4 linked regions of the Homo sapiens genome follow. The protein of the gene in region 3 purifies or fractionates together with the protein of the main gene of each other region. This does not show direct contact. Each region holds a gene or a part of one and is shown on either strand. Other genes may lie near its edges.

What was found. The genes of interacting proteins can lie anywhere in the genome.
Region 1: the proteins of C1QTNF7 (region 3) and MAN2A1 purify together in Homo sapiens (affinity purification with mass spectrometry; one large-scale study listed by BioGRID and IntAct). This does not show direct contact.
Region 2: the proteins of C1QTNF7 (region 3) and NDNF purify together in Homo sapiens (affinity purification with mass spectrometry; one large-scale study listed by BioGRID and IntAct). This does not show direct contact.
Region 4: the proteins of C1QTNF7 (region 3) and SULF2 purify together in Homo sapiens (affinity purification with mass spectrometry; one large-scale study listed by BioGRID and IntAct). This does not show direct contact.

What each region holds. Positions count from the first base shown.
Region 1 is NC_000005.10:109,692,049-109,696,481, reverse strand, and holds part of MAN2A1 (alpha-mannosidase 2), read right to left. Parts: intron 1-4,433. UniProt on the Homo sapiens protein: Catalyzes the first committed step in the biosynthesis of complex N-glycans. It controls conversion of high mannose to complex N-glycans; the final hydrolytic step in the N-glycan maturation pathway.
Region 2 is NC_000004.12:121,065,981-121,070,413, reverse strand, and holds part of NDNF (protein NDNF precursor), read left to right. Parts: intron 1-4,433. UniProt on the Homo sapiens protein: Secretory protein that plays a role in various cellular processes. Acts as a chemorepellent acting on gonadotropin-releasing hormone (GnRH) expressing neurons regulating their migration to the hypothalamus.
Region 3 is NC_000004.12:15,430,311-15,435,561, reverse strand, and holds part of C1QTNF7 (complement C1q tumor necrosis factor-related protein 7 isoform b precursor), read right to left. Parts: intron 1-5,251.
Region 4 is NC_000020.11:47,656,851-47,661,071, forward strand, and holds the end of SULF2 (extracellular sulfatase Sulf-2 isoform a precursor), read right to left. Parts: intron 2,881-4,221; coding exon 2,847-2,880; intron 2,603-2,846; coding exon 2,549-2,602; intron 1,543-2,548; coding exon 1,512-1,542; 3' UTR 556-1,511; downstream 1-555. UniProt on the Homo sapiens protein: Exhibits arylsulfatase activity and highly specific endoglucosamine-6-sulfatase activity. It can remove sulfate from the C-6 position of glucosamine within specific subregions of intact heparin.

The DNA of each region.
Region 1 (4,433 bases), on a different chromosome or scaffold from region 3:
GTTTTAAACTAAAGTACTTTCTCTTCTTTAGAAAACAGTATGTTAGATTTAGAAATTTAACATTAAGATATTTAAGAGATACCAACCAGGCGCAGAGGCTCACGCCTGTAATCCCAACATGTTGGGAGGTCAAGGCGGGCAGATCACGAGATCAGGAGATCGAGACCATCCTGGCCAACATGGTGAAACCCCGTCTCTACTAAAAATACAAAAATTAGCTGGGCATGGTGGCTTGTGCCTGTAATCCCAGCTACTCGGGAGGCTGAGGCAGGAGAATCGCTTGAACCCGGGAGGTGGAGATTGCAGTGAGCTGAGATTGCACCACTGCACTCCAGTCTGCCAACATAGTGAGACTCCGTCTCAAAAAAAAAAAAGATATATACTAGATACCTACTATCCACCTGTCTGCATAAAATATAATTACCTTAAACAGGGCACTCTTTCAGAAAAGCTATGATATGACCTCAAGTGACAGAGTTCATCAAACCAAATGATTTACTTCCTCCCTATTATAGGCACATTTAGCTATACTCACTAAAGCACTAGATGTGAGCTCCATTTCAGTACAATTAATCCTCAAACCTGTCTGAATTTAAAAATGGTTTCAAACTTAAAAATAGCAGCTTGGCTTGATAACTGAAACAGAAACCCATTTTAGTTAAAATGTCCTACTTCCTCTCCTGATTAACCTACTAATAACAACTGAGAAGCAAAAATCACTATTTTAGAGTTCTTCCTCCTTGCCTTAGTTCTGCTCAAACTTTTATAAAAGCTGCTGCTATCAGGAACTTTTACCAAGACAGAAGGGATAAAAAATGCAATAAGGCCTTTACAATCCAGCAAATACAGGTCATCAGAGCTGCTAAATATCCTTTCATTTTCTTAAAGATTACAGAAGTTGGAGAACAAGGGAAAACTAAGACTCCTGAATGCAAAAAAAGCTAAGAATAAACCAGGTGATCAGCAACAGCTAGTGAACCACTCATTCCAGGAAACTCTCAACACTTCAGTCCTTCAAAAAAGACTAAAGTTTTCAGTTATCACAAAAAGCAATAGCTGACTCAAAAACAAATAAAAGTGGTCATTTTAGCCACTATTTTGCCCACAGCCCAGACACCTCTTAATGCAAATTAAAAGCTAAGAGAGAAAATCCCCTTCCAATAATACAATTGTGACATCTCCCTGACAAAAATATTTGTTTAGGCCCTGATAACAGTGTTCATCTGGGAACAACACACCCAATTCAATTTAAAAAAAACAAAAAACAAAACATAAACTACTATCTTCAGACCACAGACAGTCATGAGTATCTGGCCCAGTTGGTTTACAGGAAATAAGTTTGGGTCTTAGTGAAAAATGCTGATCAGGAAGAGACCCACAGGGCTGTTGGACTGAAGAGGAGTTAGAGGACACCATCCTCAAAAGGCTCTAATGTTTGTTCTTGCATTCCTAAATGCTGGATGCACTATCAACGTTCCATCACTTCCCAAAAAGCACAGATCTCCGCATTATATCCCAGAAAATAAGACAATCTCCCTCATACAAACGTGAACAAACCCCAGCACCAAGTGCTATTGTTTATAAATAGACTGCACTCAAGGAAGGGGAAGGAGATCATATTTTCCTTATATGTCATTCTTAAGTAAGATTTACAGATTTATGAAAGCAAGAAAAAAACTGGGGAATCAAAGTCCTAGTTATATGTATTGCCATGAGTCAACTTTCATTAATAACATCTACTATGCTGGACTCTTAAGTACTACTGATGTAAAGTATGTAAGCACATTTCTGTATGTGTATTACAGTAAGTTAAAAAAAAAAAACACAAAAGGCAACTGGGAGCAGTGAATCACACCTATAATCCCAGCACTTTGGAAGGCTGAGGCAGGAGAATAGCTTAAGGCCAAGAATTTGAAACCAGTTGGTCAACATAGTAAGACCCCGTCTCCACAAAATAAAAATTTTAAAACTGGCTGGGCACAGTGGCATACACACCTGTAGTCCCAGCTACTCAGAAGGCTGAGGTGGGAGAATGGCTTGGGCCCAAGAATTCAAGGCCACTGCAGTAAGCTGTGATTCCATCACTGCACTCCAGCCTGGATGACAGAGCAAAACCCTATCCCAAAGAAAAAAAAAAAAAGGTATACAAGTTCTCACCTTCTAATGGCTTTCAATCAAATGCTTATTTAAAGGCATTCTCACTTTCTCACTTGATAAATGTTACATAGGCAAAAAGATAAAGTTTTAACTTCACTTTCACATTTTCCATCGGAGTCTCAATTTCCATATTTTAAGAGTTAATATTAATCTCTACGGTCATATGCTACACTAATTACTTAAAAAGTGATCATTTGTTATACAAAACCTGACTCATTAATTTACTTCTCCAGATCCAAACATCAGACTAATTAATAAGACAACCCTATTATACACACCATAGATAGTAAGCACCTTGTGAAATCTGCTTGTAAGAAGTGATGACTAATTTCAGGGAGACCTTAACAAAGTTTCTCCTTTCCATCTGCTCAAATTCTTCCAAGTTATCATAAAGCATTTTCAAGACATTAGTCTCTGACCAACCTCTCATTCACAGTGGAATTTTTATTAATTTTCTTAGCTGAGATTTATTAACCCTGAAATATACACACAAGTTTCAACAGATTAGGCCCCCTGTTGCCTCTAGTCCTCCAAGGAATTCCTCCCAGAAGCAGAAGCAAGGCTTCGGAGTGCTTCAGGATAGACTTCCAAAGAATATCTTAGAGGCAGGCAGCTGTTCCGGGGTGAGAGAAACTGGAGCACCCTCGGCCAGCCCACTCTTGCCCCAGAGTCCAGCCAAATGGTGGAAAACACCAGAGTTGTGAGAGAAGAGAAAAAGAACAAACCCCCGCTCTCCAAAAAAACAACAAATAGATTGCTCTCAATCTAGGATGGTCTTTAAAAATATCTTGTTTACAAGATAGACCTAAAGCCTAGTGAAGGTTCCGTATCAACTGAAACCAACTAAATGGGCAATTTAGAGGAACCCAATACCTATCTAAATAAACCGTTCTACTAGATACCAAAAAATGACACATAGTGACCGACCTGCTTGGCTCTACTAAAACTCAAGAATTCAATACCCAAACTTGCCAAACAAATGTATTGCAACCTCCTTTTGCTATGTTTGGTATTATTAAGAATAAGTTAGAAGCAGTGAAAAAAAAAAGAATCAACTCAAGTTCTGGATGCTGGACTACACAATGGTTTTCATTATAATGTTTAGCTCTGAAATGAGCTCAAAGACATTCTGGGAAGGGTATAAATCTCTAGCAGTAAATGTTTCAGAAAAAGGACCATATTCATTATGGCTTCAAAATAAAAGTTCCTTTAGTCATAAGCTAAGGTACCAGAGAGCAACATGCTCTATACAGGGGGCAACCAACCCCAGGGCCATGGACCTGTTAGGAACCAGGCCACACAGCAGGAGGTGAGTGGCATAGCAGGTCAGCAAGCATTACCGCCTGAGCTCCACCTCCTGTCAGATCAGCAGCAGCATTAGATTCTCATAGGAGCACGAACCTTATTGTGAACTGCGCATGCCAGGGATCTAGGCTGCATGGTCCTTATGAGAATCTAACGCCTGATGATCTGAGGTGGAACAGCTTCATCCCCAAACCATCCCCCGAAACCCCCGACTCCCCCCATCCCCACCCCTGTCTGTGGAAAAACTGTCTTCCAGGAAACCAGTCCCTGGTACCAAAAAGGTTGAGGATCACTGCTCTATATTTTACATCAGATCTTTCCATAAGCAAATGGCAGCCTAAACAGTAGGCAACAGATTCCTAAGAGGCAAGACAACTCAGTGGCTGGGAGCCTGGGCTACAAAGGCTACCTGTTCAAATCTCAGCTTGCAGCTGTGTGATCTTGGGCAAGCTAATTAATCTCTCCGTGCCTCAGTGCCTCAGTCCCCTCGCCACTTAAGTTTTACCCTGTAAGATACGAAGGCTAATGTCACACACATAACGGTTAAGCTTACAGAGGGGTCTTAGAATGTCTATCTGCTTGAGGATTCAGTGGCCGTCCAAGCACTTAAAGAATACCTTCTTTCTGCAGTGAAAATCCAGTACAGAAAATCTGAGAAAGGCAATCTTAAATGCAAAATGTTCCACCTCCCAGTTGAGTACCAACAGCCTTCCCCTCCAGCAGCCACTTTGACCTTTCATCAAATGCTTTACGCTTAAAGCAGAACTTCAGCCTCTCATTGAGGACTAAGGATAGATATTACAATACTGGAATTAGCTTTGCCTAAGATTTCTCAGTAACTGAATGAGTCACTCATGTCTTTAGATTCTGAACAGAGAAAATGTCAAGGTTGCCAGAAAACCCAGGTCCAGATGTTTGCATAAACCATTTTCAAGTGATCATCAAGCCAAAGCCAAAGGACATTATTTTAG
Region 2 (4,433 bases), about 110 Mb from region 3:
CAAACAAGTAAAATCCTCCCTGGGTTCGGAGAAGTAGAGATAAAACATCCCTCCCAAGGGAGCGGTTGCAGGGGATTTGATGGGATTGAATTGTTTTATTATCTTGAAAGAAGTGATGGATGGATCCGAGAGGGAATATGTATATAAAGCAGAGTGTAGTGAGGGCGATCGGTATGATTATTCATTATTGTTTGTTAAGAGTGATAATAAGGCCGCAACCTTCGCTCAGACTGTGTTTATACTGGGGTTTGAGTTTATGTCAGTCTCTTATTACAGTGGTTTCAGAAAGTGAAAACACCAAAACCGTATTAATTCTTCAGTCATTCTGCATATGGGATTAATCAAATGTCAAAAAAGATACTGTCGTTTTACCACAGTTTTAATCTATGATCTTTTAGAAGGTTGCACTCTTATAAAATGTCATTTGCCTCCATCTGTCTTCTTAAAGTTTAAAAAACTTGGCAACATAATTAATTATGGTCCCAATTCCCATTTTCAATCTAAACCTATATTCAGGATTATATTAAAATACCCCATCATTTATTCCTCAGAAGTGACTCTTATGAGTTTAAACTCTTGGAGGGGAGAGAGGGACAACTGGGAATGAGGGGCCTAGGAGTTAGATAAATTAGTACTATTTCAGATTTCTCTAAAAATTCCTTTACTTCTTCCTTTAGAGAAAGAAATTACAAGGTCCTTCTCTGCACAGTTCATCACTTCAGTGAATGCCCTTAATCTTTACCACACACTTGAAACATAACAGCTTGCAGCCTTGTCTGCATTATTGCTTTCATTTTTGTGTCAGGACATTTTATTCATTAAACCTGTATGTCAAAGACTTAGGCTTAGTGTGGCAGTAACACTCTGTTTTAATTAGTAACTATCATAAAAAAGAAGCTAGAACTCTGTAATAGGCCTAAATTGCTATGAATTATGTTTGGTTTAAATTACGCATTTATTTCAGCAGAAATGAAACCATGAATATAAAACATCTTTTAATCACTTGCAGATACAGCTTTTATCTCTTAGGATGTAACAAAATATGTAATTGAAAAATATCCTTCTAAGGACAAGAGAAGCCCCCACCCTCAGCTTATTTGTCCTGGGTCTGTTTAACATTCATATGGTGAAGTATGAATGTTAAAGAGTAAAGACTATTGTCACAACATTGCCAATACCAGGTCGATGGAATGCTACCTTGGAAATAGCCACAGTAGGTCAGTCGTCAGCTTAATGTAGAGACTTTTCTAGTTGGCTGCGTGAACCTTGTTGTTTCAGATTTTAGTTTTCTCACTTGGATTTATCGACCAGACTCTGTTGTGGAAGGGAGAAAAATGTATTTTAAAACTCTAACAAATTATTTGACATGAAGGGGAGAAAAGTAGAAATAAAGTGTATCTCTTCTCTTCCTATATTTATTTCTATAGCAATTCTCTTCAGCCTATCTAGAGGTCAGAATTTTTACTTTAAAACTGAATGTGTTTTTGTTGTCGTCGTTAGGACTTATCATTTTGGTATGATGGATGAGCAGATATTGGAAATGGAATAATGATGACTGAATCAACCGAGAGCATAGGAACAGAGTGTGAATTACACATCATATGTGCTAATTAAGATTATTTTAATCTCCTTTCCTTAGTTTCTCCATGATAAGGTGGTCGATAGTGACCAAGTAGTGCTCTCTCTCTCTCTCTCTGTCTCACTTTTTTGCTACCTGCCTTCTTGTCAGGTCTTGCTTTGGGGACCTATACACCTATAGTAGCAGCTGAACCTTGCCAGTCAGTGGCCATCAGCTAATCACTTGGAAGAAAATATGTCTCATAGTCATCTGTATTGGGTCAAAGGCAGGGATACCCAATATAACCAACAAAATAGTTCAACTAATTCATTTGACCCTGAAATAATATCTAGAACCTCTAAATGTTTATTTTAGAATGATTATTCTAAAGAACACAATTTATTCTTCCCCTGTGGGCTCATAATCATTTAATAGAAGCCACAGCGTGGTTGATAGTAAATAGTAAACCCCACAAAATCTTTGCTTTGAAAGCTGATTTTAAAATCAAATCCTCCAGGATTTAAATACTCTATTTTAAAATACTTTGCATTTTATTCCCTGAAGTTAGGATAAATTCTGCTGTATTTTTCCACTGTATTACAAATGTAACATTACGTGACACTCAGCATGCATGCAGTCAAGCTTCCATGTTAATTTCCTCCTAGAAAAAAAAAGTAAATACTTTGCTGCTGTTGTTAAAAAATAATCATGTAGTATGAGACAGAAAAACAAGAATGCTAATACTTTATTGTATCACATGGTGGTATGTTGACCATAAACTCAGTTATATTTTTGTTGAAAATCACACCATTTCAGTGTAAGTCTGTTTGCTTGGCTGTGTGTATTTCACGTATTTCTTGCCTCTTCTGAGATGACACCTGGCATTTGCTGTACCAGTGCCTAAGCCAGTGCCAAAAGCAGGTGTATCCTTGGCTGCTTCCTTCCTAAACACACAACCCAAAGAAGCAATATCCACACCTTTCCCCTTCCTTCTGGTACTTTACTAAAAACTGCAAACCAACAAACACATGAATTTTAGTCTTTTGAAATATTTGGAAAACATGTAATATATAATGTTAATTCCCCCAATAAAAAAAGTTGTGGCTTGTTTTGATTTTAAAAATTAAGGGTAACAAATTTGATCAATGTGGTATAAAAGCAAACTAGCAAAATGGTCTGTAGATTTTTCACTTTGGGATAAAGAGACAAATTTGGCCACAGAACAGCTGGGTATTTGGCCCTATTACAATGCCAATTTTTTTCAAGGAACTCATTGAGTTAACTTTGATTTAAACTTCACTTTAAAGTCCACAAACCTCAAGTTTATGAGAAAAGTATAGAAACTTTCAAGATATATGTCATCATTCTTTCAATAACTTCCATATCCTTTGGAAACTGATTTATTTTAGTAAGTTAGTTAATAGGTCTTGGTTTTCGCTTGTTAATTTTTTCTGTAACAAATTTGAACATGACACATTTAATATTTTATATATTTCTCTGAAGTATTTATTTTTAGCTTCACTTATGAAAACTCTAAAATGAATCTTTTCTTTAAAAAAATGTGGCTAGAGGTAGTAGTATAAATGTATAATTTATCAAATGTCTCTTTTAATTCTTCTTTTAAAATAATTTGCCGTCTTTTTTATAGTTAAAAGAAAAACTTTTTTAGGAATAATGGTAAGGTTATATAAAGTTTGGAGAGTACTCAATAAAAATATGATTACGCGTGATTGGGAATCAACTCATTTGAGTGGAACTCTTAGACACTGCCTCCACAGCGTGGAGACTTTTAAATATAAAAACCAAATTATAAAAACAATTCACAACATGCATGCACGTTTGCTTTCTAATTGGAATGATTTCAGCTAATATCACAAATAGTGGTGACCAGCTGAAGTAAATGGAGACTGTACAAGTTTCTGTCAGTGTTTCTTCTCTCTAAGCGGAAATCAAGGTAAACACCCTCTTCTTCCAGCTGTGTGCTCTGAGAACATATATTCCACAATCTAAAAACATAGCCAAAAATATGGACTATATTCAAATATGTGTTTTATCAACAACTGAAAATCACCATATCTTGTCTTCTGAGGCAATGCTGTTATATACACAGATGTAGATAGAATATGAGCCTGAAATTTAACATTTTCTAAAATAAGCAGTAAAATCTGAACTCATAATTAGACCTCTAAAATATGACATCTTGTTTTTGAAATCACCATGACTGTTTTTAAAATTTATAATGTAGGAACTATGAACAAATTGGTATATACAAGACAGACAATGCCCTATCCTGGCAGTTGGCAAACAAACTGTTGGCAGACAGTTAGGGGTAGTGTTGTGGTACTTACTTGAAAATACTATATTTAAGAGAGAAAAACCAGTATAATAGGGCCTGATTGATTTATTTAGGATTACTTTGTCCAATTTAGCTGTTACAAGTGTATGGTGACTTCTGGAGTGTAGATGGTTATAATTTATATATTAGAAATATATACTGCTGGATCCTGTAATTGAAGAGAGATTTGTTGCCAACAGTGGGACAGATCAGAAACACCAGCGCTAGCTAAGACACGTAGTAAACTGGGGAAAAACATCAGTCGTTTAACTCTGTGCCTCCCTGAGTCTCTGATATTGTTAGTTCTTCGGGTGCTATGAAAATATGTTACTTTTTATGGAAAAAGAAAACTGCCTCTTAAATGAGAGATAAACATTTAACACTCTAATGATAGCAATAGCAGGATTCACCATACTAATAGAACTAACAGATGGGTTACATGAGAGATGGCCTTAGAGGTACCAGGGAAGCCACCCTGCTCCCAGGGCCTCTCAGGGTACCAAAACACTACCTGAAAAAATATGCTTTTTTTTAACTTTT
Region 3 (5,251 bases):
ACACATTATTGATATAGAATCCTCAGTGCCCTACACGGGAGTTGGTGCAGATGAAGAATTGGTTAAAAACATTTCAAAATAAATCACTGCATTTATTCTTCAGAAATCAATGATGGATTTAAAAATGGCATTTTCTTTTTACAAACATAGTGCATTTTTTAAAGAAAAAAATTTAGACCTGGAAATGAAAAAGATAAACATCAACATTATTTTTACCACCTTGAGATTTACATTTTAGTATATATATCCTTCCAGTCTCTTTTGTCTATACTATGGAGAAAGTGATACCATGCCATTTCTACACTTCCTTAACTTCTTTCACTTGACAATGTATCATGAACACCTTCTCATGTCAAAATTATGTGTGACATTAAAAAATAATTGCTTTTGTCTCTACTATCTTTTATGTACAGAACCCCCATTATAGATATTTAGGTTGCTTCCAAAGTTCTCCCAATATGAACATCATGCTAGACATCATTCTAGCTAATCTTTGCATGCACCCATGATTGTTTTCTTAGAATTTATGGACTATTTAAAGCTGGAGAAAAGAGGAGGCATTTTCAGGAAAACCATGGTTTTCACTTGGTAATCATGTATAATGCCAATTAGTGTTAATTGGGGTACTGTGCATGTCCTGAGGGGAGGTCTCAAACTTTAATTTAAAATCTGCAGGATATAATGTCGTGGTGTCCCATTAAGCTGTTAGCACTGGGGCTCAATTAAAGAGCTGTGTGAAATTAAGCCACGCATGGTGCCTGTGCCCCAAGTGAAGCAGGCAGCAGGTCTCTTCAATTCTGATCTAATAGGACTCCCCCATAAAGCCTAGAAGCTCAGAATGATGAGTCATTTATTAGTATGGCACTTTGGCATATAGGCTGAAGGTGAGATGGAGAGTGGTATAGATTGGAGATACCTGATTTTTTAGGCTAAATGGTCCTTAGTATTAGCAGTTTTTTAAAGGGAAGAACATATACAGGTGGTTCTGGGGTCATGCAAATGAGTTGTGTTTGGATGGTTGGACCCATGCTTTAACAAGAAATCTATATAGTGCTTGACCTGGTGTATACTCTCCCAAAGGAAATCATCACAAAATGTGGGGAAAGCAATCAGATGAAATTTCTTTTGTTTTTTGACAGCCATGTGAGAAAATTGACCAGGCACACATCACCACTTTTGTGGTACCCATGGGGAAATTGCAACATCTTGGAATTAGACCCAGAAAATTGCCAGAGCGTAGGAATGACAAACTAAGAAAAACACAGTGTGCACATGTGATTTTGAAGTAAGCTGATTCCTAGAAATCTTATTAGTGAAAAACCAAAGCAACTTATCCGAACTCAGGCTCTGTAACTTTGACTAAATCTTGGTGTTACTAGTTGAAAAAAAAAAAGCAAGGAGAACATTTTTGCCATGCCCTGTCTGGTAGACATTTTTGTATGCCCTTGTCATACAGCACAAATCCAAAATTATTGATTCTATTGCTCAACTGGAATTAAGGCACTTTCTGACAAGCCCAGTGCATTCAATACAGGCCTTCCAAAGGAGCTTCAGATGAAAAAAAAATATATGGAAAGAACATTCTGTTCACACCCCCTGCCACAGTAAGAACAAGATGCATTGATTAAATTAGCAGTTCTCTCTCCGTTGTGAAAGGCTGATTAGAGGAGGCTTTGAGAAGGAATGAGAAAGTGGCCCTGTCTGGGACTTCATCTTTAAAATGTGGGGGAAGCAAGTCTGATCTCAGGAGCTTTAAAGCCCTTCCTCAGGGGGCCACCTTTCTGGGACTTGCCAAGCTCTTTGGGGCCTGGAATCACGATGGGCTACCTGCCGAGGAGGCCGCCTGGAGATTCAGGCTGTCCTGTGATTTCTGGTGATATGTGTTCTCACTTATTTGTCTGCTACTTGTGTGTTGAAATTTAGAATCATTTCCCACAGAATTGTTGCTATTTGACAGGAAGAGAAGATGGGCTAGAGTAAACCCAATCTTAAGTTCTTGTCTTGTTACCATTTAAAATGGACATTTAATTTTTCAAATTGCTGTTGGTGCCTAATCACTTAAGTTATTAATCTATTCTGTTTTCTTTAAAGAATTTTAATACATATCCTGGGAGGGAACGTGTTCAAGTAGGTCATGTTTTTGCTGTGGTGATACATGATGCAGGCCTGGAGCGTGCAGGGCCCATTTTGCTGTGGTGATGGAGCAGGACAGCAATAAAGTCACCCCCCTCCCCAGAAAAAAAAGGCTGGGTGTGGTGGCTCACGTCTGTAATCCCAGTGTATTGGGAGGCTGAGGTGGAAGGATTACTTGAGCCCAGGAATTTGAGAGGAGCCTGGGCAACATAGCAAGACCCCATCTCTACCAAAAAAATAAAGGTTCATAGAAGATAGTCATAATGAGGCTTTTAACTAGACATGGGGTGCAAGGCTATTGGCTGAGGCCAGAGTTGCTTTCAGGAGGGACCTGAAAGCAACTGCAGAGAAGTTGATTTGGACAGTGGCTTCTCAGACATGGTGATGCAGGTGTGAAAGCCTAACTATGCCAATAGTCACAGGAACAGTCTGTGAAGAAGAATGTGGTAAGGGTCTAGTTGATGGTGGGCAAAGGAAGCAGAAATTTTAAAGATGTGATTGGAAGAAACGATATTCAGTATTGCCAATAGCCAGGCAAAAAGGAACTCAAGGAATAAATTAAAACAATGTAAACAGATTTATTCATTGAATAAATAGATTGCTTTTATGACAAGTGCGGAAGAATACTACTGCCTGTATAGGAGTCTAAATGCTTCAAGCATTCCCAATTAAAACTTTAAAAAAGGCACTCAAAGTGATTATTCCGTAAAAATCCTTATCAGAATTGAGGAACAGGCTGGGCACGATGGCTCACGCCTGTATTCCCAGCACTTTGGGTGGCCAAGGTTGGAGGATCACTTGAAGTCAAGAGTTCAAGATTAGCCTGGCCAATATGGTGAAACCCATCTCTACTAAAAATACAAAAAGTAGCCCTGCATGGTGGCGTGCACCTGTAATTCCAGCTACTCGAGAGGCTGAGGCAGGAGAATCACTTGAACCCTGGAGGTGGAAGTTGCAGTGAGCAGAGATTGTGTTGCTGCACTCCAGCCTGAGCAACAGAGCCAGACCCTGTCTCAAAAAACAAAAAGAATTGAGGAACAATGTGTTGTGGTGCCTGATGCATGCTAGTGGCACGATGGTGACTGGTCAGTCAAGTACTGGGATTCAGTTGATGCAAGAAGACCACGGGGTGTGCATTATAATGGAAAAATCACAGTGGGATCACGCTGTTTGGTTCTTCATTGCACCTAAGGGCCCAAAGCTTCATGTTACATGGTGCGATGGTCTACAAGGCCCTCCTTATTTCCCTGACTTCATCTTCTATTCTCCTCACATTGTCAGCTCCAGTCACACTGGATTCCTTGGTGCTCCTCAAAGACACTAGGTGTGCCCTGCCTTAGGGTCTCACGTGTCTCTTCGCATTGTCTAAATCCCTCTTCACCAAGATGTCTATATAGCTACTTCTTCATCTCCCTCTTCACATCGTTGCTCAAATGGCATCTTGTCACTAAGTTCAACCCTTATCACCGTGCTTAACACTGCAATCTGCCTTCTTCTGCCCATGACCTTCCTTTTATCTGCTCTACATTTTTTCTATTCTTTATTGTACTTTTCACTTCTAACTCAGTAGCTAATTCCTATCTTTATTTTATATCTATATTTTTCCTGATAGAATGTAAGCTACATGAGGGCAGGGATCTTTGTTGAAGTCATTGATGTGTCCAACCACTTACAGCAGGGCTTAACCCAAAAAACATGGCTGGAGAAAGAGGAGAATTTTGTGGGGAGGTTTGAGCTTTGTGGGGGAAAAAAACTGGTGAGAAATTATGAAATATGAGAATATTACACAAGAAAGAGGGAGGTGGGGTTTGAAGAAATCTCCCTGGAGCCTATGTGTCCTTTTTGCAGTGTTTGAGAAATACAAATACAAAACTTGAGTTGTTTTAATTTGACATAGTCTAGGGTGTTTAAAAATATTTTAAAATTAATTTTTTATATAGGGAATACATGTACATTTCATAAAATTCAAAAGAAAAAAGAGTATGCAACGATAAGTCAATTTCTTCACCTCCCTTTGAGTCTTCTGGATACCCAGGTTCCCTCCCTAGAGCTGATCACCTGTGCGAGTTTCTTGAGTGTCCTCCTTCCCCATGTTGGCATCCCATATACAATGTTCTGTACGTTGCCTTTTCACTTAGTTTCCATATGAGTATTTATAGCTTCTGTATTGACACCTATATGTGTAGAGCTGTCTTGTCCTTTTTTATTTAGTGGCTAAAAAAATCCATCATATAGATGTGTTTGTAATATTTAACCAGTTTCCTATGATGGGTATTTGGACTATTTTCTTTCTTTTGCTGTTATAAGCAATGGTGCAATGAATCTATCTATCTATCTATCTATCTATCTATCTATCTATCTATCTATCTATCTATCATCTATCTATCTTAATCTACAAATGGCTTATGACATGAGCAGCAAATAATTTCCCCCAGTTTGTCCTTTGTCTTTCCTCATGTATTTTAAAATATTTTTACCATGAAAATATTTTTTGAGGTTCAATTTATTGGGTTTAGAAGGCCTTCACCACTTTAAGGTCCTGAAAAGAATCCTTGTGCTTTTCTTTCAATTTTTTTGTTTCATTTTTTCACATTTAAAAATTTGTTCCATCAGAATGTTTCTGATAAAAAGTGTGAGGTAGGGATATAACTTTATATTTTCAACTCCTTTTATTGAATAATCCACTCTTTACCCACTCCCCCACTGCCTTGCAGTGAACTTGATTATTTTGACTGGGAATAAATCACGTAGGTCACAATTTCATAAACATTACAATAATTTTTAACAGCTTTATAAGGATATAATTTGCACACCATAAAATTTACCAAAGTGTACAACTTAATGTACATCACAATCCAATTAAAGACTATTTTAAAACTCCAAAAAGAAACCTGTACCCCTTAGCTGTCACTCCACATACAATATGCTTTAAAACATTGAATTGAATTCATGAGTAGCTGGGACTACAAGTGTGTGCCACCACACCTGGCTAACTTTTGTATTTTTTAGAGAGATGAGGTTTCACCAAGTTACCCAGGTTGGTCTTGAACTCCTAAACTCAAGCGATCTGCCCACCTCGCCCTCCCAAAGTGCTGGGGTTTCAAGAGTGAGCTGCCAC
Region 4 (4,221 bases), on a different chromosome or scaffold from region 3:
AAATAAAGGTTTCTATTTAAAATTGGAGCCTAAAGAGTTTTTTTTTTTTTTTTTTTTTTTTAAATCCCTGTTGGGTTAAGGGTAAAGGAGGTTAAGGAAGCCTATTTCAAATAATGGTAACAGTTTCTGAGAAGTTAAAAAACGCCACTAGGGAGTTGCTAGGGAGCCTTGGCCTGTTTGGGGCATTGAAACAAATGTGGGTGCTTTTAGGGATTATCTCCGTCATCTGTTAAATGAGAAATGGGTTGGACTGGTGATTGATAGTTGAAATCTGTCAACTACTTGTATCAGGTTAGACTACCTGATACACAAAGAAGGGTTGGCCAAGGCGAATTTCTTTGCAATTGATTAATACTTTTTTAAAAAATGAAGTACCAAAGCTGGTATACTATGAGACTTACCTGTAGTCCCTTGAAGTATGGTAGACTTTTTAGTCAATCTACAACCATCTACTCCCCTTTTAAGAAAATCTTCTAAACCCAAGGCATTTTCTTCCAAAAAGATGTTGACTGGTAGTATCTTGAATACTTTAAAAAAACAGACACACCAAAAAACTCCCAAGAAATGGCCTTTTACAAAATGTCAAAGGTTCTTCATACCAACTGCTGGTCATTGGCTGGGGTTTTGAACACTGTATGACAATACTTAAACTACAAAATTTTTTTTACAAATACAGTTTCATCAAAACTTGGGACATACATCAACTTCATTTCTTTTCAGTACCTTAAAAAAAAAACATCAGTTCTGGGACATAACAAAGAAATACTAGGAGAAATGGTATCTGGACAGGAACAGAAATGTCCACAACTGCGAGGGATTTTCTTTTACACTGGCCACAGAGCGTTTATTGACACCACCACTCCTGAAAATTGGGATTTCTTATTAGGTTCCCCTAAAAGTTCCCATGTTGATTACATGTAAATAGTCACATATATACAATGAAGGCAGTTTCTTCAGAGGCAACCAGGGTTTATAGTGCTAGGTAAATGTCATCTCTTTTGTGCTACTGACTCATTGTCAAACGTCTCTGCACTGTTTTCAGCCTCTCCACGTTGCCTCTGTCCTGCTTCTTAGTTCCTTCTTTGTGACAAACCAAAAGAATAAGAGGATTTAGAACAGGACTGCTTTTCCCCTATGATTTAAAAATTCCAATGACTTTCGCCCTTGGGAGAAATTTCCAAGGAAATCTCTCTCGCTCGCTCTCTCCGTTTTCCTTTGTGAGCTTCTGGGGGAGGGTTAGTGGTGACTTTTTGATACGAAAAAATGCATTTTGTGCAGCTGGTGAGGTATAATCCAAAGCAAAAGCAGGGGCAAAAATGGACTTCCTGAAGTTATCTCTGCTCCTGCTGGTTATCCTCCAGAATCTGTCATGTTGACTGAGAGTGCGTGCTTGCTTTCTCAGGCCTCCTGGCCAATACCACAGGTCTGCTGGAAATCACCCACATGGTTTTTCATTGCCTGTGCAGTCAGGTGATGCCTCTATGTTTTTGGAGGTCCACCTCTGTTGTTTCTTAACCTTCCCAGCCTTCCCACAGTTGTCCCCTAAAGAACAAAACAAACTCATCTTAGCACTTAGCTATCATGGTCTTTATCATGACTTCCTAATCGGTCCTATAGCTGAGGAAGCTTTGCTTCAAGGCTGCTGAGAATGAATATTTCTAGGTTACTTAGAACGGGATTGCCACCACCTAGTCACCTCAATTTTTTGTTTACTTATACACCCAATGCCTGGCAAGGATGGCATTTAAGGATCTGGACAGAATAGTGGCTAAGGAGATTGTGATATGTAAAGATTCTGTACCTTAATTCTAGAAGCACCGAAGAAAGGCTTAGGTGACCTGTTACTAATGTCCTATTAAAGCCACACAGGTTTATATGCATATAAAGGAAGAAATGAGTAGACCAGAGGTTGCAAGTGGCAGTTCACCAAGGGCGATAATTTGCCCACATGGTTAACTTAATGTCAAATTAGATGATAATGATAAAGAATTCTCACACATACTTGCATTTTTGGATTTGGTAGACGAATGAGAAAATCTGGCGAACCTCAGCCCATTCCTGCAGGGAGCAAACTGGCCTGCTCCCTTTAGAATAGAGGTGAACTTTACAGGTTGCCAGTCTCTTAGTCCCTGTCAGCCTCCAATGGCACTGGAGTGAGAGTTTGTAGCATGGGCTTTTTGGAAACCATTTAATGAGGCCATCCTACTACTGATGTTGTATATCAGTTAGCACTTTTGTAGCCACAGCCTTCAAGATGCCTAGCAATTTGTAATATTTAAATGCTTCTCAACCTCTAAGTAATAGCTCAAGTTTACCAAGCACAGATTATAGCGAGAACAGCAGTGTACTGGACAAGGCATTAATCTAAAACATGAAATGGATTCAAGTGTTTTCTTAGGGAAAGATGTGCATTAGTACTTCCCCCCCACCCTCATCATGAGAACAAACAAAGGGTGGTATGTAAGAAATGGCATGCAAATAGAATAGCATTGGCAAAATGAAGCGGTCAGAACCAGATTTCTATTTGTAAGCTGGTTCCTCAACTCACAGTGATTTGGAAGAAGGTCTCTTCATTTCTGGCCACTTTCGACGCTGAAACTGCCTAAGTTTTCAAGTGTCAAAGGAGAATGAATGTTAACCATCACCAAGAAAGAAAAAGTCCCCAAAGAACTATACAAAGAAGGTCTCCTAGGTGACACCTATCTTTGGTGGGTGATCCTGGTCTCGGGCAGACCAGAGGGAAGGGCAGTTTCTCAAGATAACAGGTGCAGACTCACAGAGATGAGACTGAAGGATGGGCCAAGATAGGAGAACTTTGTTTAGGCTTTAATAATAAAACGAAATACCTGTATTGCTCATAGCTTCCTCCATCTTTAAGTCCTAAATGAAGGAGAAATGAAAAACAAAACAGGAGCAGATAGTTTAGGCAAAACAACCCCAACACACCAGAAAACCATCTTATGCTTTTTTGTCACAATCCCATGATGCTGATAGTGTTCCCTACTCAGAGTAGACTGAATTATGAGGGGTAGACTGAATTATGAGGGGAACCTGCCCTAAGTCTCCTAGATAGCCTTGTAGATTGCCTAAAATCCAGTGTCACCATGATCAGTTTCAGGACCCTGATGGCTTCATTCAGCGCTGACCTTAGTTATGGTGAGGGAGGTAGATGCAGGCATGAACATCTGTGCTCCAGAGGACAGAAAGCCAAGAGCCCTGACCAAGTGCAGGAGGGAGTTCCCCTTTGGGCTCTGGGGAAGTTTTCCCGAGGATGTGGCAGGATCAAGTGCGTGGGCTCCGGGGTCAGCCCACCTTGTTCACCTTACTCCTCCATAAAATGAGGATAAGATTCACCTCAAAGCTTATCAGCTAACACATGTAAAATGCTCAGCACAGAGCCTGGCACACAGTGACTAATATGTCATTGCACTTTGATCACAAGAGTAGCAGCACTTGAGTGGCAGAGATTAGGAAGCTACTAGTGAAAATTCTGATCATATCAGGCTCCTGACCAGAAGTATTAGTGCAACATCTTGTGTAAACACATTAGCTCTTCCCTCTTCATAACTAGAGCCGACGGTAGCGTCTGAATTCCTCCTAAGCTGTGTAGCCATTTTCCTGACATGAACTCTAGGCATCCTCCTAGACACAGTCCCTTCCCCAAGGGACCTTAAATACCAAAGGTTTTTTTTAGGCCACTCTCTCTCACTAGTAAGTGAACTTCATTTTTCTTTTAGCTTTGTTTTCTTTTTTTAATATATTTTTTTTATTTTTAGAGATGGGGCGACAGCTCTGTCTCCCAGGCTGGAGTGCAGTGGTGCTATCATAGCTCACTGTAACCTTGAACTCCTGGGCTCAAGTCTCCTCCCACCTCAGCCTTCCAAAGCCCTGGAATCATAGGCATGAGCAACCATGCCTGTTTAGCTTTTTTCATCTTAAAATATCTATCTGGTTGGCATTCTAAACTTAAAACTGCAGATTTTGTCCTGTCCCAAACAAAACTCAGGATTTACCTGGGACTCCTAATCCCGCACCTCCCATCACCATGTTGTCTGGGGGCTTCACCACCTGAATCTGAAATCCATCATCTTTACTGCTCCCACCTCTAGTCCAAGCCACCACCATTTCTCCCTGGATAACTGGGCCATCTTCGCTGTTTTCTCCCATAAAGTCCCATTCTCCACCTAGCAAATGTCGGTGCCCAGGTTAAAACCCTCCATT